Homo sapiens: one gene and its partners. The protein of the gene in region 3 interacts with the protein of the main gene of each other region in a biochemical or structural test. Each region holds a gene or a part of one and is shown on either strand. Other genes may lie near its edges.

Region 1 (7,604 bases), on a different chromosome or scaffold from region 3:
GGGACAGAAGTGGGGCAAGGCAGACAGAAAGAAAAAGAGAACAGACGTTGAAAAACTCAGTGTCAGACCCCTGGGGCCCTGGCTTAACTGAGGCCAGGAGACCTGCAGGCCATCTGTTGAGAGGCCAACCCTGCCTGCTGTGGCCCCCACAAGCAACCCTACCCCAGAGGATGGCAGAAATCTTTCCCAGAGCATGCAGGTCCCACCCGTCATATAGCAGGGACCCAGGCCTCCCAGGGGTCTCAGACGGAAGCAGTCAGCAGGCAGGACAAGAGCCCAGGTTTGTTTTAATACTCTGGGCAAAAACACAACCCTCCCTCCTCTCATATCCAGAGCAGGAGCTGGGTCCAAGGCAAGGTCTACCCACCCACTTGTGAGGCACTCACTGTCACAGGCATAGGGCTTATCCCGGTCCTCCAGGATGGAAGCATCCAGCTTCTTACGGGCACTGCCCACACCCTTACCCTGCCAAGAAGAGCAAAGAGACACCCTTATTTTGGTAGCTGGGCCTGAGGAGTTAGACTCTTTTGGAAGTGGCCGCTAATCTCACTTGAAATAAAATAAGGAATTCCCTAGGCCACCCTGTCCCAAGATGCAGGCAGCACGCTGGCCCCTCACCTTGGATTTCCCCTTTCCCCGACGCTTGGGAGTATCTTCTTCATAGTCTTCATCATCGAGGTCATCCAGGAAGTCATCTGGTTCTAGGATCCGCTGAGTGGACAGGAGGGTTAGCATGGGTAGAAATATGTGCATCCAAAAGCTCCCCTATGATGAGACTGGCCAAGGCCACCCAGAACCTCCTCTGTGACGTGGTCCCACCCACACCAGCCTCATTCCTCACCAACGCCTTTCAAGCATGCTATAATCCTGCTCCTGCTCCCTTCCATACTTTGGGATATCTTTCCCCTGTGCTTCACGTTATTTCCTTAGCCTGAAATGCTTTCCCCACCATGCCACATGGCCAAATCAAATAGCATGCTTCCAAAAGGTTGCCCTGATGCCACAAGCAGCCATGCCCTCTCCTGCCTCTGATTGGCCACCCTGGGAGCACATTATTGGTGGTTCTGTCCTGACACTCGCCTCCTAGTTTAAATTAAAATGTTGTTGCTTATTTGTGTGACCTTGTGGGAAGCTTTTTTTTTTTTTTTTTTTTTTTGAGACAGAGTTTCGCTCTTGTTGCCCAGGCTGGAGTGCAATGGCGCAATACTGGCTTACCGCAACCTCCGTCTCCTGGGTTCAAGCGATCCTCCTGCCTCAGCCTCCCAAGTAGGTGGAATTACAGGCATGCGCCACCACACCTGATTAATTTTGGATTTTTAGTAGAGACGGGGTTTCTTCATCTTGGTCAGGCTGGTCTCGAACTCCCGACCTCAGGTGATCCAACTGCCTCGGCCTCCCAAAGTGCTGGGATTACAGGCGTCAGCCACCGTGGCCGGCCATGGGAAGTTTTTTTTTTTTTTTTGAGATGGAGTCTCGTTCTGTCACCTAGGCTGGAGTGCAGTGGCGCAATCTCGGCTCACTGCAAGCTCTGCCTCCCGGGTTTGCGCCTGAGTAGCTGGGACTGCAGGTGCCCACCACCACGCCTGGCTAATTTTTTTTGTATTTTTAGTAGAGACGGGGTTTCACCATGTTAGCCAGGATGGTCTCGATCTCCTGACCTCAAGATCCGCCTGCCTCGGCCTCCCAAAGTGCTGGGATTACAGGCGTGAGCTACCGTGCCCGACCCATGGGAAGTTTTTAAACTGCTTTGTTTCAGCCTCTGTGTGAAATGGGGAACACAGGACCTACCCCATAAGGTTGTACAGACTAAAGGAGAAAGGGCATGAAAAGGCACTTAACCCAATGCTGGCATATTTATAGCTGTTATTTTTACATGTATTCTTATCTTCTCTGTTGGCAGAGACTAAGTGTGCTTCACTGTGTAACCTCAGGGACCAAAAAACTGTGACACAAACTTTTGTGATAAAAGAGTAAAGCACTTAGGGATAAAAGTTTGTTTCCCTCCCTTCCCAGACAGGGTCTCCCTCTGTTACCCAGGCTGGAGTGCAGAGGCATAAGCAGAGCTACAGCTTCAATCTCCTGGGCTCAAGCAATCCTCCCACCTCAGCCTCCTGAGTAGCTGGGACTGCAGGCGTGTGCCACCATGCCCAGCTAATTTTTTATTTTTATTTTTAGTAGAGACAAGGTCCTGCTATGTTGCCTAGACTGAAAAGTTTTTGAAGTTTCCTCTCAAATAGTTTAGCAAAGACAGATAAGGCAAATGTGGCAAAATGTGGAATTGATAAATCTAGGTAAAGAGTATGTGGTATTTCATTGTACTATTCTTGCACCTTCTGGTTTTAATTTTTTTTTTTTGTTGCCCAGGCTGGAGTGCAGTGGCATGATCATGACTCATTGCAGTCTCGAACTCATAGGCTCAAGTGATTCTCCCACCTCAGCTTCCCTAGTAGCTGGGACAACAGGCGCATGCTGCTATGCCTGGCTATTTTTTTTTAATTATTATTTTTTTGTAGAGATGGGGTCTCACTTTGTTGCCCAGGCTGGTCTCGAACTCCTGGACTTGAGCAATCCTCCTGCCTTGGCCTCCCAAAGTGCTGGGATTACAGGCATGAGCCACTGCATCTGGCCTATTTTAATTTTTTTAATGAAAATTATATATGTGTATAATAATAACCTTCTGTGATAAAAGTGAATGAATGAGAGTCTATAGTTAGAAGCAACAGAGAAGCCAGTCAGTACCTGACAATAATCAGGGACTGAAGTAAGAACAGAACTGCAGGGGCCTGCTTCCTGGACTCCAGCTTCTGTTTCAGTTCTAGAAACTAGGTGGCCCCCAGTGAAGAGGAGGCTGATTTCCATCAAAGCTCCCTTAGCCACAGGGATAATCCTGTACCTTTCGCGCTCGACTGTTGGTCACAGGAAACTCGCCCAGGCTGTCATCATCAACTCGGGGATCCGGGGCACCTCGCTTCTCCAGGGGGTCAGTGCGCAACAGAGCCTCTAAACTACTGCCATCCTGAGAGATCAGCCCCTCCTTCTTCAGGGTCTGGTCTGTGTCTGCAAGCAAGGTCAGGATAAAGCAAGGCTCAAAAGGGCTGAAAGCAGACTGCTCTGAGTCCACATAATGCTGGGGCTTACCAAAGGTCTGTCACTATCTTTTGTTCTCTGCACGCCCAGGAATTAAGACACCCTAGTTCACTTGGCACCATAACTTATCTGTTTACCTGTCTCCCCTTCTAGACTGAGGTCCTTAAAGGAAAGAATCACATCATATTCATTTGAGTATATTTGGGATCTAGTACTGGGCCTGGTATATCACAGTGATTAGCAGGCTCTCACCATGCAGCAGGCCACGCCTCTGCTCAGGAAGTATGTGCCTTACCTGGCTTAATAGATGGGAAGGAAAGTCGTGGATCCTCAGGGGGATGGGCTCGCCGCTTTTTCCGCCAGCGCCGGGCAGGGTAGGAGTACAGCTGTCCGGAGGCCAATCCTGTGGCAGGAAGAAAGATAGAAGTCAGGCCCTAACCCAGTATTAGAAAGTAATACCAAACACTTTCTAATTAAGTAGGCCCCCCTTTGAGTTCTAGAGCAAGGGAGAAATTCTGACAGTGAGGGCCTAGGGGGTTAGGTGGAATAGTCTGTGGAAAAGAAAAATAGATATATAAGCTTCAGGGCCTTGGCTAACACATAGTTCTCCAGACACACAATGGCCTCAGCAGGGCAGAAAACAAAGATGCTGGTATCAAACATCTGCTTCATCCTCCCTGGGTTTCTAATCACAGGAAGACCATATTCATCCATAGGTGGAAGGCAGTAGGGAAAACCCTATCAACTGTCTCATCACCTAAGATGAGGAGGCTTCTTCCTCCTTATGCTCCTGAGTCCCCTTCTCCCAAGTCTGGACCCTCACCTGGACCCCGGTGTCGCTTTTCCATCCAGATGTAACAATTGCTCTGGGCTACTCCGGTCTGTGAGTCCAAGAAAGGCAGGCGCACGCTGCGCTCAGCACAGAGGCGAGCATTGTAATTGTGGCACTGCTCCATGGCATCTTTGTAGTACTGCTCCCCAAGGCTGCAGGGAAGATAGAAATCAGGCGTGTATGTTGGAGCGGGGGGCATAGGGTGCTGAGCTATTCCTCTCCCCTGCCATCTGCTTCTCTAGAAGGCTCAAGGGACTGGGTGGCTGTCTCTTCCGTTCTATTTGCCTCCACTTCTGCCTCATGGGACACGAAGCCCCTTTTCTAGGCCATCATGAGGAATTACTTTACAAATAAATTACCATCAGGAACACATGATTTCATCATATGTCTAATCAGACTTAAGTTTAACCCCCAAAGAGGTGAAAGAATGTTCACTCCACGTGTCTCACAAGCCCACCCCTGTGCTAGTTAAGATGCTATTTCTCTTAACCCTTATGAGGCTAAGAAGCAGATGATAGTCCCTCCTAAGTTCCTCCTTATTCCCTCTTTCCTAGAATCACCTCCCAAATAAACTACATGCTCCCACATCCTTGCCCCAAGGTCTGCTCCAGAGGGAAAGAGTTCAAAGTCTAGGGGACTTATTAAAATGTATTTAGCAAACTATGGTAAATCCATACAATGAAATTCTACTTAGCCATAAGAAGGAAGCTCTTCACATACTGATATTAAACAATTTCAAGTTAACTAGGGACAAAAAGCAAAGCAAGGTACACTGCTGAGAAGCGTCAAATAAAACTATCATTTATGTAACAAAATGGAAAAGAAACTGCAGGTCAGCGGGGAGAAAAAGTGGGTGACTAGGCCACTTCCTTCCATATGCCTTTTTATATCTTTTGAATTTTGAACTAGGTTTTTAATCAACTAATTAATTTTACATTTATGGAAGATGTCTACAAGTACCTGAAGTTCCTTGAAGCTTTTATTGAGCACCATCACTCATAAGAAACTTGTTTGCTCTAAGGCCCATCTTAGGGTTCTTCTCCATTCTCACAAAATAAAATTATATAGGAAAAAATCTTCTTGGTCTCAAAAGACTCAATTTGAAATCTGAATCAAGGGTAAATCTTTAAGTGGAAAACTGGAAAACTGCACAGTGCCAGGAGTTATCTGGTTCTAAGAAGCGTGTATATAGAACCTATCTTGTTCTCATCTTGCAGGGTTTAACAAGGACTTTGGTAATGGAGGTTAACAAACTCGATCTTATATTCAATCAATCTTGTTTTTTTTTTTTTTTAAGAGACAAGGTCTCACTATGTTGCCCAAGCTGGACACAAACTCCTGGCTCAAGTGATCCTCCTGCCTTAGCCTCCCAAGTATCTGGGAATAGAGGCATGTGTCACAGTACCTGGCGTCAATCAATCTTAAACCAAGGGCAGAATTGATTTATTTCTCATAGTATCCCTAATACTCATGACGATGTCTGAGATACAGTCAGACTTGACTTGAGAGTAAAAAGACCTGGCTTGCCTGCAAGTCACACGAACATGGACACTTAGTCAGCCCAGGTGGACCTTGGTTACTCTTCTATAGATTGAGGAGGTTGGACCAAATGAGCTTTGACATATCAGGATTTTACAAGAAACAGCCTGGGGATGAGACAGCAAACAGATTAAGTCTCTGTGGTTTCTGTCCGTAACTCGGGCTACACCAACAAACCCTGCTCTAGAATGTGACAGGGTCCTTCAGTGAGCAGCCACAATAGACCACTGCATAACTTAGCATGTGCCCAGCAAGTAAAAAAGACACATACGACACACAGAGACGGCAATGCCACAAATATAGCCTGGCGTGATTCAATGAGCTGTAATGACTGTAATCTGAGGTAGGCACGAATCTCACGTTGGAGAGCAGAATGGAGAAGGCAGCCTTGCCTCTGTGGGCTCGCCTTTAGGAGGCAGCCACGTCTTCACCACACAGAATAAAATTGGATAAACAAGGTTGAGTGCGGCAGCTCCTTTGTTTCTGCTGATGGGAATTGATACGGACACTGGAAGTCAAATGGAAGGCAGGGCCAGGCTGGCGAGTGCTGCAAAGTCAGAGCAAGGAGGCTGGAAACAGTTTTGCGGGGAATGAATGAGAGATGTTCTGTCAGGGCTCTTGTGAGCTACATAAGGCAGGCAAACAGTCTTGGGGGTAAAAGGGCTGGGAAGGAAACACTGAAGTGTGGGGGGAGAATCTCATGAAGAGAGAACAAGACAGCATGACAGTGAGCTCTTAAGAACTTAAGGGAGGCCGGGCACAGTAGCTCATGCTTATAATCCCAGCACTTTGGGAGGCCAAGGCTGGTGGATCTCTTGAGACCAAGAGTTAGAGACCAGCTTGGGCAACATAGTGAGATCCCATCTCTACAAAACGTTAAAAAATAAAAATAAAAAAGGCCTGGCGCAGTGGCTCACGCCTGTAATCCCAGCACTTTGGGAGACTGAGGTGGACGGATCACCTGAGGTCAGGAGTTCGAGACCAGCCTCAACATGGAGAAACCCTGTCTCTACTAAAAATACAAAATTAGCCGGGCGTGGTGGTACATGACCATAATCCCAGCTACGGGGGAGGCTGAGGCAGAAGAATTGCTTGAACCTGGGAGGCGGAGGTTGCGGTGAGCCGAGATTGCGCCATTGCACTCCAGCCTGGGCAACAAGAGCGAAACTCTGTCTCAAAAAAAATAAAATTAAAAAAAACAAAACAAACAAACAAAAAAACCATCAGCTAGGCTTAGTGATGCATGCCTGTGGTTCCACGTAGCCCCTGGGGCGGATGAGGTAGGGGAATCATTTGAGCCTAGGAAGTTGAGGGTGCAGTAAACCAAGGTTATACCACTGCACTTCAGCCTGGGGGACAGAGGGAGGCTCTGTCTCTTAAAACAAAAAAAAGCAATAACAAAAACTTAAGGCTCCGATACCAAGAAATGTCAAGTTAACATTAACATTGTTCTCTCTCTCTCTCTCTCTCTCTCTCTCTCTCTCTCTCTCTCTATATATATATATATATATATATATATATATTTTTTTTTTTTTTTTTTTTTTTGAGATAGAGTCTTGCTTTGCCGCCCAGGTTAGAATGCAGTGGTGCAATCTCGGCTCACTGCAGCTTCTGCCTACTGCAGCTTCTGCCTCCCGGGTTCCAACGATTCTCTTGCCTCAGGCTCCCGAGTGGCATGCGCCACCACGCCCAGCTAATTTTTGTATTCTTAGTAGAGACAGGGTTTCACCATGTTGGCCAAGCTGGTCTCGAACTCCTGACCTCATGATCCGCCCACCTCGGCCTTCCAAAGTTCTGGGATTACAGGTGTAAGCCACCGCGCCCTGCCTCTAGATTTTGCCTAGAAAGTTTCAAAACCAATCAGCAGCTACAGCTATACTATTATTTTACTTTCCTAGTAAGAACGCTTAAAGACTTTCTCTCTTTTTTTGAGACGGAGTCTCGCTCTGTCGCCTGGGCTGGAGTGCAGTGGTGTGATCTCTCCTGGGTTCAAGCGATTCTTCTGCCTCAGCCTCCTGAGTAGCTGGGACTACAGGTGCACGCCACCATGCCCAGCTAATTTTTGTATTTTTACTAGAGACGGGTTTCACCACCTTGGCCAGGCTGGTCTCAAACTCCTGACCTTGTGATCCGCCCGCCTCAGCCT
Region 2 (7,679 bases), on a different chromosome or scaffold from region 3:
CCACCAAGCCCAGACCCGAAATGAGTCAACCAGAGGCTCAAAGGCTGCGGGGTGGGTCAGCACGAGACGTTTGCAAAGCAGCTGGGCCCAAGACCCTTGATTGGCAGAGGCGTTGCTAAGGCAAACAGTGCCGCTTCCTCCCATTGGCCAGTCAGTTAAGTGCCACCCGGAAGGTGGAGCTCCCCAGACAGCAAGGGAGGAAGCCCCACCCCCTCTCCTTACCGGGAAAAGGAAGGGGGAGGAGTAACAGCGCAGGCATCCCTAGCAGCAGGCAAATGCGCTCCCTAACTGCCCAGGCCCCCAACACCCTGAAAGGGCAGCGGCTGGCTTGTAAGGTAGTCCCCGGCCCAGTCAACCAGCCCGCCTGCCAAGAGTGCTGGATTCCCAGGACCCCGGGACCGGAGTGCTCCCTTTCTACTCCCTGGCGACCCAGCCCGGAGGGCCGGGCTAAACTACACCCCCGCCCCTAGCGGGGAGACAGCTGGCGGGAGGAATGCAAAGGCCCTGCCAGGCAGGCGGGCTGCGGGCGGGAGGCCGGCGTGGAGCCCAAGCCGGCCTTATATGGGCACGGAGGCCGCCCGCTTATCTAGGGGGGCGGTCTTCTATCAGGAAAGTGAGGATGGACACCTGTCCCCTAGGACGAGGGTCGTTAATCCGGCTCCACTCCACATCGGTGGGCACCTATCCACCTGTCCTGGGCCAGAAAGGGAGAGGGACCCCACTCCCTTCCCTCCTCTCACATAGGCAACCCAAACACACCTTGGTCTCCCCACTGCTGTCAGACTCCGACACCTGGTAGGTGAGATCTGTCTCTTCAAAGCCAGTGGCACTCATTCTCTGGTCTGTTGTGGGGTCTGAACGGGGTGGAGAGTCTGGCGAGTTGAGGCAGGTCTGAATCAGTGCCTTGCCGGTCTCACTGGTGATCATGGGCTGCAGTTTTCGGGTGGCAAAGGTATACACATGGCCTGTCTCACTGGCCACCAGCAACAGCACCTGTGTCCCTGTCAGCGTGGACAGCTCATAGGCCTGAGGGGTGAGGAGGGAGATGGGCAGGTCAGCAAACTTTTTATCTCTACCTTCCTTGAGAAGTTGGAAAAAGAATTATACAGTGATGTCATTCCCCCATTCCCATAATGACCTTCGTCTCTAATGACTCTGAGGGCAGGGTGTCCTATCAGGATCTCTGGAAGCAGCAAAACTACCCATGCTCCTCCTTTGAGGAGCAGCCCCATTGACCTGAAGATACCCCAAGCAAACAGTAACAGCCCCCAGTGATGGAACATATAACTTCAGGGGATACGAAGGACCCAGCTAGCTGCTCCCCAACACAGCTTAGTGCCTGGAATGTCCCAGAGCCTCACCCCTTCTCACTGTCACAGGGACCAGGATGGATCCCTACCTATCACACTGGAATTTGTACAAGACATTAGTGATAATGGACCATTTAAGCTCCAACTGTCCCATGTTTCTTTCCAGAAACTGCACAGGCTCCAACTTGTTGCCACAGCCTAGTTTCTCCTTTTGCCCTGTAATACTTTACTGCCCTTACTCCTTTGTCTTGGGAAGAAGGTTATGGAAGGAGAGAAGAGAGTTTTCCTTAATTACCTCCCCCCACAATCTTCTCCACTGATGATCAAGTGACAAGGGACACTGATACAACAGTGTCTGGAGTGATGGGAGACGAGACCTAGATTAGCACTAAACATCCTGCCATGAGCCCAGGAAGGGGACCTTCAAGGATGGCCCCATAGATGCCATACTCTCCCAACAAAGTTCTGCAAACCACCTTGGAAGCAGCTCTGGTTTCTACATGGGACAGAAATAAACACCAGCCAGTGTTCCCAAGGATCCAGCTCCTTGTCTCCCAGTTCCTCTGCTTTCATCTCTTCCCTTATCGTCTACACCCCAAAATGACTCCTTTCCTCAACACTTTTCACTGGCTGGCAGAAGAGGAATTCCTAGGTACCTCTGCAAGCCTCCCTGACTTCCCCCAAACCCCATCCAAGCATAGATTCTCCCTAGGGCTGGAAACCCCACTTGTCCTAACGGCAGGAGATTCTGCAGCGGGTCCTGCCAGGAGCATGTGGTTCCCAGTGGATGCCATGGAAGACTCACGGCCGGCGCAGGACTAGGTTCCTGCTGCTCAGGGCAGCACCAGTTCTCCTGCCCCGCTCCCTTACCTGGTCCCTAACCCTGCCTGTCCTTCCAACCAGCACTACTCTCGTGGTGCCCACTTCCTCCCACACATGTTCGCTCATTGTTGTCATGCAGCTCCAGCCTCCTCACCTCCATACCTTCTCGTTTGCTCCCTGCTTTTCCGGCGCCCTCGTCCGAACACCGGAGTGCACTGGACCTACTGATCCCGGGTTCTCATTATCCACCTCCCCGGCAGCCTCGTAGCCTCCCATCACCGCTCCTCACCCCTTCACTCAGCAAGGGCCCTCTTCCTCTCTGGCGCCGGTCACTCCCACCTCTGCGCCTTTCCCCACGGTTGCGAGCGTTCGCGGGATCTCCCCTCTCCCCACATTTCCCCGGCGGCCCCTCCCCTTCGGCCCTCCCCGGGCAGGAGCCATCCCCTCCCACACACCTCCTGCGGACTCGCAGCCTCTCACCTCCGCCTCGGCTCTGCGGTCCTCCCGGGCTCCCTTTGCACATCCCCACCCCAACCGGGCCCCGGGGCCGGCCAGCCCCCCGGCTTGGTACCTTCTTCATGATGCCCGTCTTCCTCTTGCTGAAGGTCGTGTAGCGCCGCAGCTTGTTGTCGATGAACTCCATCTTGATCTTCACGCGGCCCCGGGTCTTCTTACCCGGCTTGGCCCCGCTCACCGCGCCGCTCACCGGCCCGTAGCCCCCGGTGGCCGCTGCCGACGCCTCGGGCCCACCGACCACCATACCGATCTCCATCTCGCTCAGGCTCCGCTTCAGGCCGCGCCGCTCGGCGCCCAGCTCCTCCTCCTCGCCCGACTCCGAGTCGCCCTCGCTGCCGCTGTAGAGGGCCCCCGCGGTGGGCGCCGGGGTGGTTGCCGCCGCTGCCGCAGCCTCCCGCTCCAGGCGGCCGGGCCCGAGCCCCGCGCCATTCCCGGGGACCCGGCCCCCGTTAGCCCCGCGTGTCCCGCCGCCGCCGCCCGGCCGCCCCGTCGGGGTCCGGTTCAGGCTGCCCCCCAGGGCCGAGCCCCGGCCCAGAGCCGCCGCGGCCCCAGCTTGGGTCGGTAACATGGCGCTCGATGCAGGAGGGCGGACGGGCAGTCAGCGAGGAATCGGAGCCGCCGCAGCCGCCGCCATCGGCTTCCCGGCTCAACCCGGCACTCCCGCTGCTGCTAGTGCCGCTATCGCTGCCGCGGCCGCCGCTGCGAACCCGGGGCCCCTGCACGCCCGGGCCGACCTGGGCCCTCACTTTCCTGCCCCTGTGGCCCGGGTTGCCCCAGGCCGCGCGCAGCGCCCCCTGTCCGTCTGCTAGGGCGGCGCGCCGGGCGGCCGTCAGCGTCCCCCGGGGGGCAGGGGCTGCTGGCCGCGGCCGAGACGGCGGGTGGAGGGGGCCGGGACCACGCGCTGGCGGCGGAGGGATCCCCCGACCCTTCCCCCCATATAAAGAGATACAATGTTTCCTTTTATGGCGAGGCCGCTCCTTATATGGTGAGCCCCAGCGCCCCCGCCCCATTGGTCCGTGGTTCCGGCACCTCCGCTCCCCATTGGCCCACAAGAGGGCGCTTATTTGCATAGACATACCGAACTCGTTGCTGTCATCTCGCGTCAGACCGCGACTCTGAGAGGGGTGGAGCCGACGCCTCTTAAAGGAACCGGAGAGCAGGCACGATTCCGCCTCCCTGAACCCGAGAATGATAGAACGGTTTGGGAGGCACCCGCGGAGAAGGAGGCTGGGACTGGAGCGCAGTCTTGCGGAAGAGAGGGAGCAGCACTAGTAAATGGGCACCGGGACCGCTGGAGGCAAACACTGGGGAAACCCCTGGGTGGATTGTGGGGTTTGCAGTAAATAAAAAAATACAGCCCAAATTCCAAGGGAGGAGTGCAGGGATTGATTGGAGCATTTCCTCACGCCTTCCTAAGGGAGGCACAGTTATTGGCTGAGCGGAGAGAGCTTGGGTCCCCGCCCGGTGTCCAGACTCGTCGCGCCCCAGCCTCTCAGCTCTAACTTTTCCCCTACCCCCAACTTCCCTTCCCTTTCCCTCGCTTTTGTAGGCGACGAAACTTTCCCACCGGGCTGGCTCGAGGATCTTCATTCATCATCCTCTGCACTGGGGGGTCTTTGGCAGACATACATCTGGAAAAGGCTGGTGGAGGGGAGGGCGAGAGAGAGAGATCGGCCTCCCAGTCCTGAGGCGGGCAGGGAGGAGAGACGGAGATCAGGGAGGAGAGATGGAGATCAGTGAAGACTTCCAGCTGCAGGCTGGACTTGGGGAGGAGGACGTCCCGAGGATAAAGCCCACCCTACAGCCAGTGCAAAGACTTGGGAAAGTGTGGCCCGACAGAAAGTTTAAGCCCAAGCAAGCACGCTCGCGCACACACACGCACATACACACACTTCTCTGGAAAGCCCGTTGGAGAAAAAAAAAAAAGTTTCACACAGGGTATCGCTCTGTCGCCCAACCTGGAGTGCAGTGGCGGGATCTGAGCTCATTGCAACCTCTGCCTCCCGGGTTCAAGCGATTCTCCCACCTCCGCCTCTCACGTAGCTGGAACTACAGGTGCGCGCCACCACTCTGGCCTAATTTTTGTATTTTTTGTAGAGATGGGGTTTTGCCATGTTGCCCAGACTGGTTTCGAACTCCTGGCCTCAAGCGATCCTTCCCCCTCGGCTTCCCAAAGTGCTGGGATTATAGGCATGAACCACCGTGCCCAGCAGAAAAAAAAAAAAAAAAAAAAAAAAACTTAAAAGATTAGAACTGGGGTGCTGCAAAGTGAGGTTCAAGCTCTGGGTCTGGGTCTTTTCTCCAAAGCAGTGAAAATAGCTTGGACTTTGCTGTTACAGAATTATTTAAATCTGGAATCTGCCTCTTGGTAAGCCCTGTGCCTGGAAACAAGTGACAAGTGATCTGATCTCTCCAGACGCAATATTCATCAATGCTGCTATCCATTCCCTGAGTTTTTTTTTTTTTTTTTTTTGAGACAGAGTCTCGCTCTGTCGCCCAGGCTGGAGTGCACTGGCACGATCTCGACTCACTGCAACCTCTGCCTCCCCAGTTCAAGCGATTCTCCTGCTGCCTCAGCTTCCCAAATAGCTGGGATTACAGGTGCCCACCACCACACCTGGCTAGTTATTTTGTGTTTTTAGTAGAGATGGGGTTTCGCCATGTTGTCCAGGCTGGTCTCGAACTGCTGACCTCAAGTGATCCTCCCACCTCGGTCTCCCAAGGTGCTGGGATTACAGGCATGAGCCACCATGCCGGGCCTATTCCATGAAATTCTTAATGCAGATTTAATGACATAAAGACTAAAGGGCAGAGTAATTGGTCAGTGGTTAGGCAATAGGAGTTACCTGGAGTAAGTCACCTCATCCTAGGGATAAAGCATCTTGGCATGTTTAAGGGGATGGGAGGCAGTGATTATTCCTGCCCGAAAAATTATGGAGATTAAATAAAGCAGTTGATTGTAACCTAGTCATTACTGGTAGTGGTAGTGATATCAATTCAGTATACTACAATCAACATTTAAAAGAATAAATTAATGGGTATCACAAAAAGCAAGGGCAAATATTGTTGCATAAAATGTTTGTTTGCATTATATATAGGTTGAACCCTACAAAATTGCCATTTTATAGGTCAAGAAGGTGGGATATTGTCAATTTCTCATAATTCAGTGTATGTGTGTAATGGATGACAATATTAACTGCATTTCTTACTGTGAGTCACAATCCAAAAGCTTGAAAAATACTGAAATAAAATATGTGCAAGTGATCAGTAAAATATAGTGTGTATTTTGTGTGTATAGTGAATAAAATATAGTGTGTATTTTTTGTCATATAGAGATAAGGTCTCCCTATGTTGCCCAGGCTGGTCTCAAACTTCTGGGCTCAAGCGATTCTCTCACCTCGGCCTCCCAAAGTGCTGGGATTAAAGGCCTGAGCCACTGCACCCAGCCCCCAATAGTTTTAAAGAGGTCTCCCCTCCCTCCACTAATTTACTCTTTACAACAGGTACTTAAACATATGGAACGTGTTAGCCCAAGAGGAAGAACAGGTCAAACAGATAAATAGGTTCCAGAAGGGTTTTAGGGACCACAAATGATGCCTGGGGTCATGTTTTGTCTGAGCACCATAATATTACAGCCAAAGCTCTGGGATTTCATTCCCACCTGCCCTCTAAAGACCCTTTCATTTGCGCCCCCTAGTTTAGACACATGCAGGGGTGACATCCCTCAGCAGGGACAACTGCTCTCTGTCACATCTATAGGGGAGGGTGTCTGGGAAGAACGCAGTCCTTAGCTTCCCTTCAAATAGGCTGCCCTCTCTTCAACTTCTCCCAACTCCTGGGTCATTGCACACCAGTGTTAGTGTCACAGCTTCTCTGTCTGCTTGGGATGGCCCATCTTCATGTCCTTTGTCACCACAGGGAGTCAGGAGGAGACCTCTACCCACACTATTGGATTACTGCAGGTTCCAGAGCCAAAAGTATTGCTAGGGATAAAGTCAAAATCAAAAACTGTCTCATAGAGGTGTTTTATTTGGACCTTATAACATTTAAAAATCATAAGAGTTTACATAAAAATCTGAATGTCTGGCCGGGCGTGGTGGCTCATGTCTGTAATCCCAGCACTTTGGGAAGCTAAGGTGGATGGATCACTTGAGGTCAGGAGTTCAAGACCAGCCTGGCCAACATGGTGAAACGCCATCTCTACTAAAAAAATAAAAAAGTAGCCGGGCATAGTGGCACACATCTGTAATCCCAGCTACACGAGAGGCTGAGGCAGGAGAATCACTTGAACCTGGGAGGCAGAGGTTGCAGTGAGCCTAAATGGGGCCACTGTACTCCGGCCTGAGCTACGGAGTGAGACTCCTTTTCAAAAAAAAAAAAAAATCTGAATATCTGACCTCTCTCAAAAAAATCAGAATTTTTGGTAACACTGGGCCTAGGTACCCACAAAAGCATTATAACCTGGAGCTGATGGTGGCCATAGAAGAGGCTCTCCACTTTACCATAGACTCCACGCAGCCTACTGAGCCTAGGTAAGCTCCTGCCTGGCTGCTCTGAAATGTGAAGTTGAAATGTTCCTCCGAAAAGGCCTGATCAGAGTAGCACCTTGCAACAGATGGGAGCTCATGTCCACCCCAGACCATGAAGGGCCTCTGTAAGTGCATGGGAATTTCAGCCAGATCCCTCACACCACACAGATTCCACCCTGACCTTTCTTTCTTTCTTCTGATTTTTATCACCTAACTAATAACAAACAAAAATTAAGGATTGCTTTTAAAAATTACTGTCATGGCTGGGTGCAGTGATTCACACCTAAAATCCCAGCACTTTTTGAGGTCAAGGTGGGAGGATAATTTGAGTCCGGGAGTTTTGACACCAGCCTGGACAACACAATGAGACCCCATCTCTTAAAAAAAAAAAACACAGGCAGGCAAGGTGGGTCATGCCTGTAATCCTAGCACTTTGGGAGGCCTAGGAGGGTGGATCACCTGAGGTCAGGAGTTCAAGACCAGCCTGGCCAACATGGCAAAA
Region 3 (8,208 bases):
AAACAAATATTGTCAGGAGATATGAAGTATGTAGAAACAAATCAAAGAAATGATAAGATTTCTTTAGGGAAAATTATAAAATTTTATTATGAGATCTTAGAGAATACTTAAATAAATGGAGAGGTATTCCGTGTTCTCTAATAGTAATATTGTAAAAATGTCATTTTCCCAGGCCGGGCGTGGTAGCTCACACCTGTAATCCCAGCACTTTGGGAGGCCGAGGCGGGCGGATCACAAGGTCAAGAGGTTGAGACCATCCTGGCCAAGATGATGAAACCCCATCTCTACTTAAAATACAAAATTAGCTGGGCGTGGTGGCACAGGCCTGTAGTCCCAGCTACTCGGGAGGCTGAGGCAGGAGAATCACTTGAACCCGGGAGGCGGAGGTTGCAGTGAGCTGAGATCGTGCCACTGCACTCCAGCCTGGGCAAAGAGCAAGACTGTCTCAAAAAAAAAAAAAAAAAAAAAAAAAGTCATTTTCCCCCAATTGATAAGTAGATTCAATGCAACTCCATATTAAATGTGATAATTCTAAACAGGAACAGAATATAGAAAAAGAACAATGAGGAGAAATTGACCTCATCAGATAGAAGTATTAATACTAATTAAGGCAGTGTCATATTGGGATAAGAATAGATAGATTGACTCATTGGAGTAGAATTGAGAGCCCAGAAGAGACTCCAATCACCTGTGACCCTGAACTGGAATAATTGGGTAAATCATTATCTTAACTTGTTTTTATTAATCTTTCTTAAATGTATGTATAGCTCAGATTTATTTCAATATTTAATATTGCAAGCGTTTTGGTCTTATAAATTTAGTGATGTTTTTGTGACCCATAGTCTGCCGTAGAAACTTAACTCTTATTAATATTGATTAGCCTATGGTAAAATTGGTTTTATTATGGTGTTGTTTCGCTTGAAGTTGCAATTTCCAAGAACCTATAGACATCATCCTAGAAGACATTAAGTGAAGACTTACTGTGTATATAAGCAGATTTGAAATTAAAAATATAAAAGATCTTCTGAAGTTGCAACAGTGCTCAGAAGTATTATAAAATAGAAATAAATCATTTCCAAAAGAGAGATTTCATTTTTGCCCAAAATCTTTCTTCTAAGCTATAAAAGACAAAACTGTTCAATACACAGTTTTGTCAATTTAAATCTACATATTCACCCAATTTTTATAAGATAAAATAAAAATGTATAATTATTGAAAAAAGAATTGAGAGCCCAGAAACAGAGCTAAGGAAATATGCGACTTTAGTGTATGACAGAGGTGGCATGTCATATCAAGAGGAAAGGAGGAAATGTTTGAGAAATGAAGCTTGAAAAAAAAATAGTTATTTAATTAAGTCGGATTCCCTACCTCACATCATATACAAATATCAGCTGAAGATGGATTAAAGGCTTTAAAAGTGAATCAACATTTTAAAAACTTTTGGTAGACTATGTTGGTAAACATTTTAATCCTTGAGGTATAAAAAGACAAGACACAAAGTGTTTTCTATAAAACTTTTGATAAATTTGATTATATTCTTAATTTCAATTTATTATATTTTTCAGTTCTAGAATTTGATTCCTTTTTTTCAGTTTCAAGTTCTCCAGTAAACTCTCAATCTTAATTCCTTGAATATATTAAGTATAGTTACTTTAAATTATATGTCTGAAAACTTCATTATTTGGATCCTTTGTGGTATGTTTTTATTGCCTGTTGCTTTCTTTTAAAAAAAAATTTTTTATTTTGCCTCCTCATATGTGTGGTTATTTAAGATAAAATACCAGTCATTTTCTGTGAAAAAGAGTAAAGATTTTAGGCCTACAATATTATCTCCCTGCAGAAAATTTTCTTCTGGCTAGTGGCCGGGTACACTAGCAATCCCAGGTCACCTAAAATCAGTGAATGATTTAGGTTATTTGAAGTTGGGCTTTCATCCCTGAAATCTGATATGTTTCCAGTTCACCCTTACTCCTAGGGTATAGCTCTTTCAGACCTCAAATCCCCCAAAGCCTTGGGTATTTATCAGATCCCACATCCTTGGCAAACTCTCAACTCCTTTATTTTTTCCCTATAGTTTATTGAGAGTTCATCTCAATCTTCTTAACCATCTCTTAGAAAATTGTCAGGCTATATTCAGATAAAAGTGGCCTCTCATTCTGAACTGTGGGTTTTCTTCTCTCATATCTTGGTCGCATGGTTTTTCATGACCTTGTTAGCTCTCTAATGTCATTAGAGAAATTTTGTTTCATATTTTGTCCACTTTATTCTCATGGTTGAATTGGTCCAGTTTACAGATTATCATCTATCATTACCAAAGTAGAACTTCTTTTTATTAACGTTTACTTTATGCTTTCTTCAGTAACTTGTAAAAGTATCTAAATGTTTGGTTGTTCAATAGGACTTTAAGTAATTCTTCAGTCATTTATGTTAATTGAGAAAATGTATAATAAATATCACTACTAGGTTCAACACCTAGTGGAGATACATCAGACATCCCTTCTGACTTCATTTGAAACTTTGTCTAATAGGATAGAAGAGGCATACATAAATGATTATCATGTAAGATTTTAAAACTTTTAAGGGCATAAGAAAGGTATAGGTCAAGTCTTGCACTGATTTAGAGAGGAGAAATATTCCCTCCATTGCAGAGGATGAAGTTAGGCTTTATAGAAAAGAAGCTTTGAGCTGGGGTTTCAGCCTTACACTGAATCTTGCATTGGGTAAAAACGGGTATCTGTCATGATTCTTGCCTGTCAGTAGTTTTTAACCATGTTGTGCAGAGATGAAAGTAATTCTGATGCAGTAGTAATTGTATTTCCACACATTGAGAAGATTCAAAGCAAAATCTCATAAACAGTGATTTTTTTTGAGAAGTAAGTAGAATTTCTTCCCTGTAGTAGAACTATTATGTGACTAAATGTTTTTGAACTTTGGCTTATTGACCAGTTTGTTTATTTTTCTTTTATGTGCCATTTAAAAATATTTAAAATAAACTTTTATTGAGATACAATAAAATCTACCCGAATATGTCCTGCTACATAACCACAATCAAGCTATGGAACATTTCCATCACCCCCTAAAATTTCCCTGGTCCCCTTCTCGCTCAGTTCCCTACCCTGCCTCTGCCTCAGGCAATTACTAATCTGCCTTCTGTCACTGGAGATTAATCTTTTCTAAAACTGCATGTAAATGGAAGCATACAGTATACTTTTGTATCTGGTTTCTTTTGCTCAACATGGTTTTGAGATACATTCATTTGGGAGTGTATACCCATAGCTTGTTTTTTTGTTTTTTTTTTTTTTTTGAGATGGAGTCTTGCTCTGTCGCCCAGGCTGGAGTGCAGTGGCACAATTTCGGCTCACTGCAAGCTCTGCCTCTCGGGTTCACCATTCTCCTGCCTCAGCCTCCCAAGTAGCTGGGATTATAGGCGCCCGCCACCACGCCTGGCTAATTTTTTGTATTTTTAGTAGAGGCGGGGTTTCACCGTGTTAGCCAGGATGGTCTCGATCTCCCAACCTCATGATCCACCCACCTCGGCCTCCCAAAGTGCTGGGATTACAGGTGTGAGCCACCACGCCTGGCCAGTTTGTTCTCTTTTATTGCTGAGTTTATTCCATTGTAGGTCTATACCACACTTTGTTTATCCATTCACAGAGTTCACATAGGTTTGTTTTTAAACTTACCAGGAACATCTAGCTACAAATTTATCTTTTTTGCATATTGATTACTCATCTTTGCAATTGAGAGACACTAATATCTTGAATGCTACATTTATAATGCTGTAAAAATGGATTTTGAAGAGGTAGCTCTCATATTGCCTACACAATAGTGCCAGTAGAGTATGCTGCTGTAACACAAGTGTTGGTATCATAACATTTTGACCTTTCAGTTGTACAGAGTACAGATGTGTTTTTATGCACTGTTTCAAAGATTAAGCATAAGAATGCTAATACTGGGATACTTATAAATGTTGTGATAGCTAAGTAGACTCTCAATGTCATTAAATAAAAACAGTACAAAATACATTATCAGTTTTATTAGTTATTGCCTGTAAAATAAGGAATTTGGGCTTAACTATGTTTCTAAATTTAGTGTTTCAAAATTTAATACTTTGCAAAGTAAAATTGTTATGTAAATAATGTGCATGTCTTGCTTTTTAAAAATATGACTTATTGCTATAGCTTATGGCATTTGAAAAGGCAATATTTTCTTTTGGAACTGGATTTCTGGTTCAAATACTAATTTAACAAACTATTATACTATATTCTATCATGAGCTTTTCTAGTTTTATAGAACTGTAAAATTTTTAATTAAAACATTTTTTAAGTTTGCACGTAAAATTTCTTATGGAAACTAGCTATCTTAACATTTTTTTGTTTCTTGGTATTTCATCCTTAAAATGTTGATCCACATTTAGTAGATACTCTTGTGTATGTCATTTTTATGTACAACACATGTACAATTTTCTAATAGATTTCAATTTTTAAAAGCATAGGCTCTAAATTTAATGACTTGAGTTCACATTTCCACCCTGTCACTGTGAAACTTTGGGCAAGTAATTCATCTCTTTACAGTCAGTTCCAGGCCAGGCTCAGTGGCTCACGCCCATAATCCCAACACTTTGGGAGGCCAAGGTGGGTGGATCACTTGAGCCTGGGAGTTTGAGACCACCCTGGGCAACATAGTGAAACCCCATCTCTACAAAAAAATAGAAAAATTAGCTGGGCGTGGTGGCATGTGCCTGTAGTCCCAGCTACTCAGGAGGCTGAGATGGGAAGATCACTTGAGCCTGGGAGGCGGAGGTTGAGGTGAACCAAAATCGCATCACTGCACTCCAGCCTGGGCAACAGAGTGAGACCCCCATGTCAAAAAAACGAACTAAACTCAGTTCCTCGTTTGTAAAATGGGGATGAAAGTAATTCTTGTACAGATTTAGGAGATAATTTACAGAGTCCTTAACACAACAACTGGACCAAATACATACTTGTTGAATGAATGGGTAAATGCCATTCTTTGTTGTGTACAAACCTGCAACTATTTTTTAAAACTTTGATTTGTTATTAATGTCAACTTGGGATTTTGCTTTAAATCCCAGGTGAGGGGATAGTTACTTCCTGAACATGGCTATAATTTATCAAATACTGTTAGATAGTGATTACTTGATAAGAATGATAAAAGGCATTCTTGAGATTGTATACTGTTCTATTTTTATTCATACATATTTGGATGCTATTCAAGGTTATTGGCTATAATGGGCAGGGAGGAGGACCTAGCAAGTCTTTAGGTCTATGTGACTATTACATTTAAAAAATTTTTTTTTTCTATTCAGTCCCTGAAAAACAGCTGAATGATATTGAAGATTGTGACCTCAATGTGGTGAGACTGTGTTTTCAAGTTTTTCTCCCTGATGAACATGGTAATTTGACGACTGCTCTTCCTCCTGTTGTCTCGAACCCAATTTATGACAACCGTAAGTACTTCATTTTCTTATATTTGTAGTCTTAACTTGTTTTTTGTAATAGTTTAATTCTTAAAATTATTTTGGTAATTAGGAAAACAATATATTCATGATAGGAAAACTTCCAGACATTAGAGAAATATATAACAGAAAGGAAATCTTCTCTAATCTCATCCTCCAGAGATAATCACTATCCTTAGGTGCATATTTTACCAGTTTCTTCTTCCTGTATATACACAGATACATTGTCATCATCATCATTTTTGACACAGTACAATTTTGGCAACTTAAAATCATAAGTGATGATTGTTTTAAAAACTAACTTTCTTCTTACCATATATCTTGGACATTTTCCTTTTAATCACCTTATTCTTTTCAGTAGCAGCATATTTTATTATGTAGTTATATCATAATTTTATTAATTACCCTCTTACAAGGCATTTGGTTTGTTTCTTTTCTCATTTTTTCTTTTTGGCCTAGCAAACTGTACTGCAATACATATTCTTGTATATTTTTTTTTATTGGTTTTTTTTTTTTTTTTGGAGACAGGGTCTCACTCTGTCACCCAGGCTGGAGTGCAGTGGTGCAGTCATGGCTCACTGCATGGCAAATGCTGGCTCAAAGGATATGGATATATCTCATTTTGAAAGATTATGAAACTTTCCCCCAAAATACTGTGTGTGTGTGTGTGTGTGTGTGTGTGTGTGTGTACGTGTGTGTGTGTGTACATAGACTTAGATATACGTCCACCAATGGTGTATGATATACCTGTTTTATGTGTAGAAGGATAGAGAGACTTAGGGCTATAAAGGAAGCATGAAAGTTGTATTGCCATAGGGAGATGTATTGCCATAGGGAAAATTGTATTGCCATGGGGATGTGGTCATGATTTATGAAGATTAATCTGGTGACAGTGGGTAGGATTGATTGGCGGAATCAGAATTTAGAAGCAGGGAGATGTAATTAGAGAATATGTCATTACCTAGAAATGAAGCCACAAAGTCTAAAGTAAAGCAGTTAGAAAGGAAGTGGACAGATAAATAGATGATTAATGTATTTAGTGTCATTTATCTATACACTAAAACTTTTATTCTGTGAATGCTTTTCCTCAAATTCTTCCCTGCAAAAAGAAATAAAATATTACTAAGGTAGCAACTCATTTTTTTGAAAATCCTTTATATTTAGGTGCTCCAAATACTGCAGAATTAAGGATTTGTCGTGTAAACAAGAATTGTGGAAGTGTCAGAGGAGGAGATGAAATATTTCTACTTTGTGACAAAGTTCAGAAAGGTATTTATTTATTTCATTGAATTTAGAATAAATTTTAGATTAATAGATGCAGTTACTTTGTTTTCCCATTTTTTTTTTTTTGGTTTCTTATTGACTAGATGACATAGAAGTTCGTTTTGTGTTGAACGATTGGGAAGCAAAAGGCATCTTTTCACAAGCTGATGTACACCGTCAAGTAGCCATTGTTTTCAAAACTCCACCATATTGCAAAGCTATCACAGAACCCGTAACAGTAAAAATGCAGTTGCGGAGACCTTCTGACCAGGAAGTTAGTGAATCTATGGATTTTAGATATCTGCCAGATGAAAAAGGTATGACATTTTGCTGGTAATAATTTATATATTTCTTGAAGTGGTCCTGCTAATAACATCTTCTTGTAATATTCATTTGAGTACAGTTATGTATATTCATAATTTATGTTTCTTTTCCTGGAAGCTTTCTGTTGGTTTTTTCTTTATGCTCTTTGCATCTCTTTATTTGTTGGGTTGTTTTTTGTTTTGTTTTGTTTTGTTTTTGAGACAGAGTCTCACTGTCACCCAGGCTAGAGTGCAGTGGCGCAATCTTAGCTCACTGTAACCTCCTCCTCCCGGGTTCAAGCGATTCTTCTGCCTCAGCCTCCTGAGTAGCTGGGACTATAGGCACGTGCCACCACGCTGGGCTACTACTTTTGTATTTTTAGTAGAGACAGGGTTTCACCATGTTGGCTAGGCTGGTCTCTGCATCTCTTTCTTCAAGAAGAGGTTTGATTAGTATGGAATAATTTCAAAGTATCTAAACTGCTTACTAAAATTTCTATTTTATTTTTGAAGGTCTGTTTTAGTCTTTGTGCACTTACCACTCAGAGAGTAGTCTCTATATTGGTTTCTTATCAAACCTTATTGCATTAGTTGACATTATTGACTTGTGTGATAAGAAAACAAGATGAATATTTTAAACAGCTTGTTTTGGGTTTTTTTTGAGACAGGGTCTCACTCTGTCACTCAAGCTGGAGTACAGTGGCATGATCGTGGCTCACCAGAGCCTCAGCCTCCTGGGCTCAGGTGATCATCCCACCTCAGCCTCGTGAGTACCTGGGACTATAGGTGCGCACCACCACACTTGGCTAATTTTTGTGGGGTTTTTTTGTTTTTTTGTTTTTTTGTTTTTGAGATGGAGTCTTGCTCTGTCTTGCCCAGGCTGGAGTACAGTGGCGCAATCCTGGCTCACTGCAGCTTCTGCCTCCTGGGTTCAAGCAATTCTCCTGTCTCAGCCTCCCAGGTAGCTGGGACTACAGGCATGCGCCACCACACCCGACTCATTTTGTATTTTTAGTAGAGATGGGGTTTCACCATGTTGGCCAGGCTGGTCTCAAACTCCTGACCTCAGGTGATTCACCCACCTCAGCCTCCCAAAGTGCTGGGATTGCAGGTATGAGCCACTGCGCCTGGCCAATTTTTCTGTTTTTTTATGGAGACAGGGTT

What was found. Proteins that work in one complex are often made in the same cells at the same time.
Region 1: the proteins of REL (region 3) and DPF2 form a complex in vitro, tested with the Homo sapiens proteins (one study listed by BioGRID).
Region 2: the proteins of REL (region 3) and SRF form a complex in vitro, tested with the Homo sapiens proteins (one study listed by BioGRID).

Annotation. Positions count from the first base shown.
Region 1 is NC_000011.10:65,336,852-65,344,455, reverse strand, and holds part of DPF2 (zinc finger protein ubi-d4), read right to left. Parts: intron 4,072-7,604; coding exon 3,911-4,071; intron 3,491-3,910; coding exon 3,383-3,490; intron 3,058-3,382; coding exon 2,894-3,057; intron 712-2,893; coding exon 619-711; intron 466-618; coding exon 387-465; intron 1-386. UniProt on the Homo sapiens protein: Plays an active role in transcriptional regulation by binding modified histones H3 and H4. Is a negative regulator of myeloid differentiation of hematopoietic progenitor cells. Might also have a role in the development and maturation of lymphoid cells.
Region 2 is NC_000006.12:43,167,194-43,174,872, reverse strand, and holds the start of SRF (serum response factor), read right to left. Parts: upstream 3,605-7,679; 5' UTR 3,217-3,604; coding exon 2,704-3,216; intron 2,478-2,703; exon of another isoform or gene 2,409-2,477; coding exon of another isoform or gene 2,295-2,408; intron 1,027-2,294; coding exon 760-1,026; intron 1-759. UniProt on the Homo sapiens protein: SRF is a transcription factor that binds to the serum response element (SRE), a short sequence of dyad symmetry located 300 bp to the 5' of the site of transcription initiation of some genes (such as FOS).
Region 3 is NC_000002.12:60,911,548-60,919,755, forward strand, and holds part of REL (proto-oncogene c-Rel), read left to right. Parts: intron 1-5,329; coding exon 5,330-5,470; intron 5,471-6,643; coding exon 6,644-6,748; intron 6,749-6,846; coding exon 6,847-7,059; intron 7,060-8,208. UniProt on the Homo sapiens protein: Proto-oncogene that may play a role in differentiation and lymphopoiesis.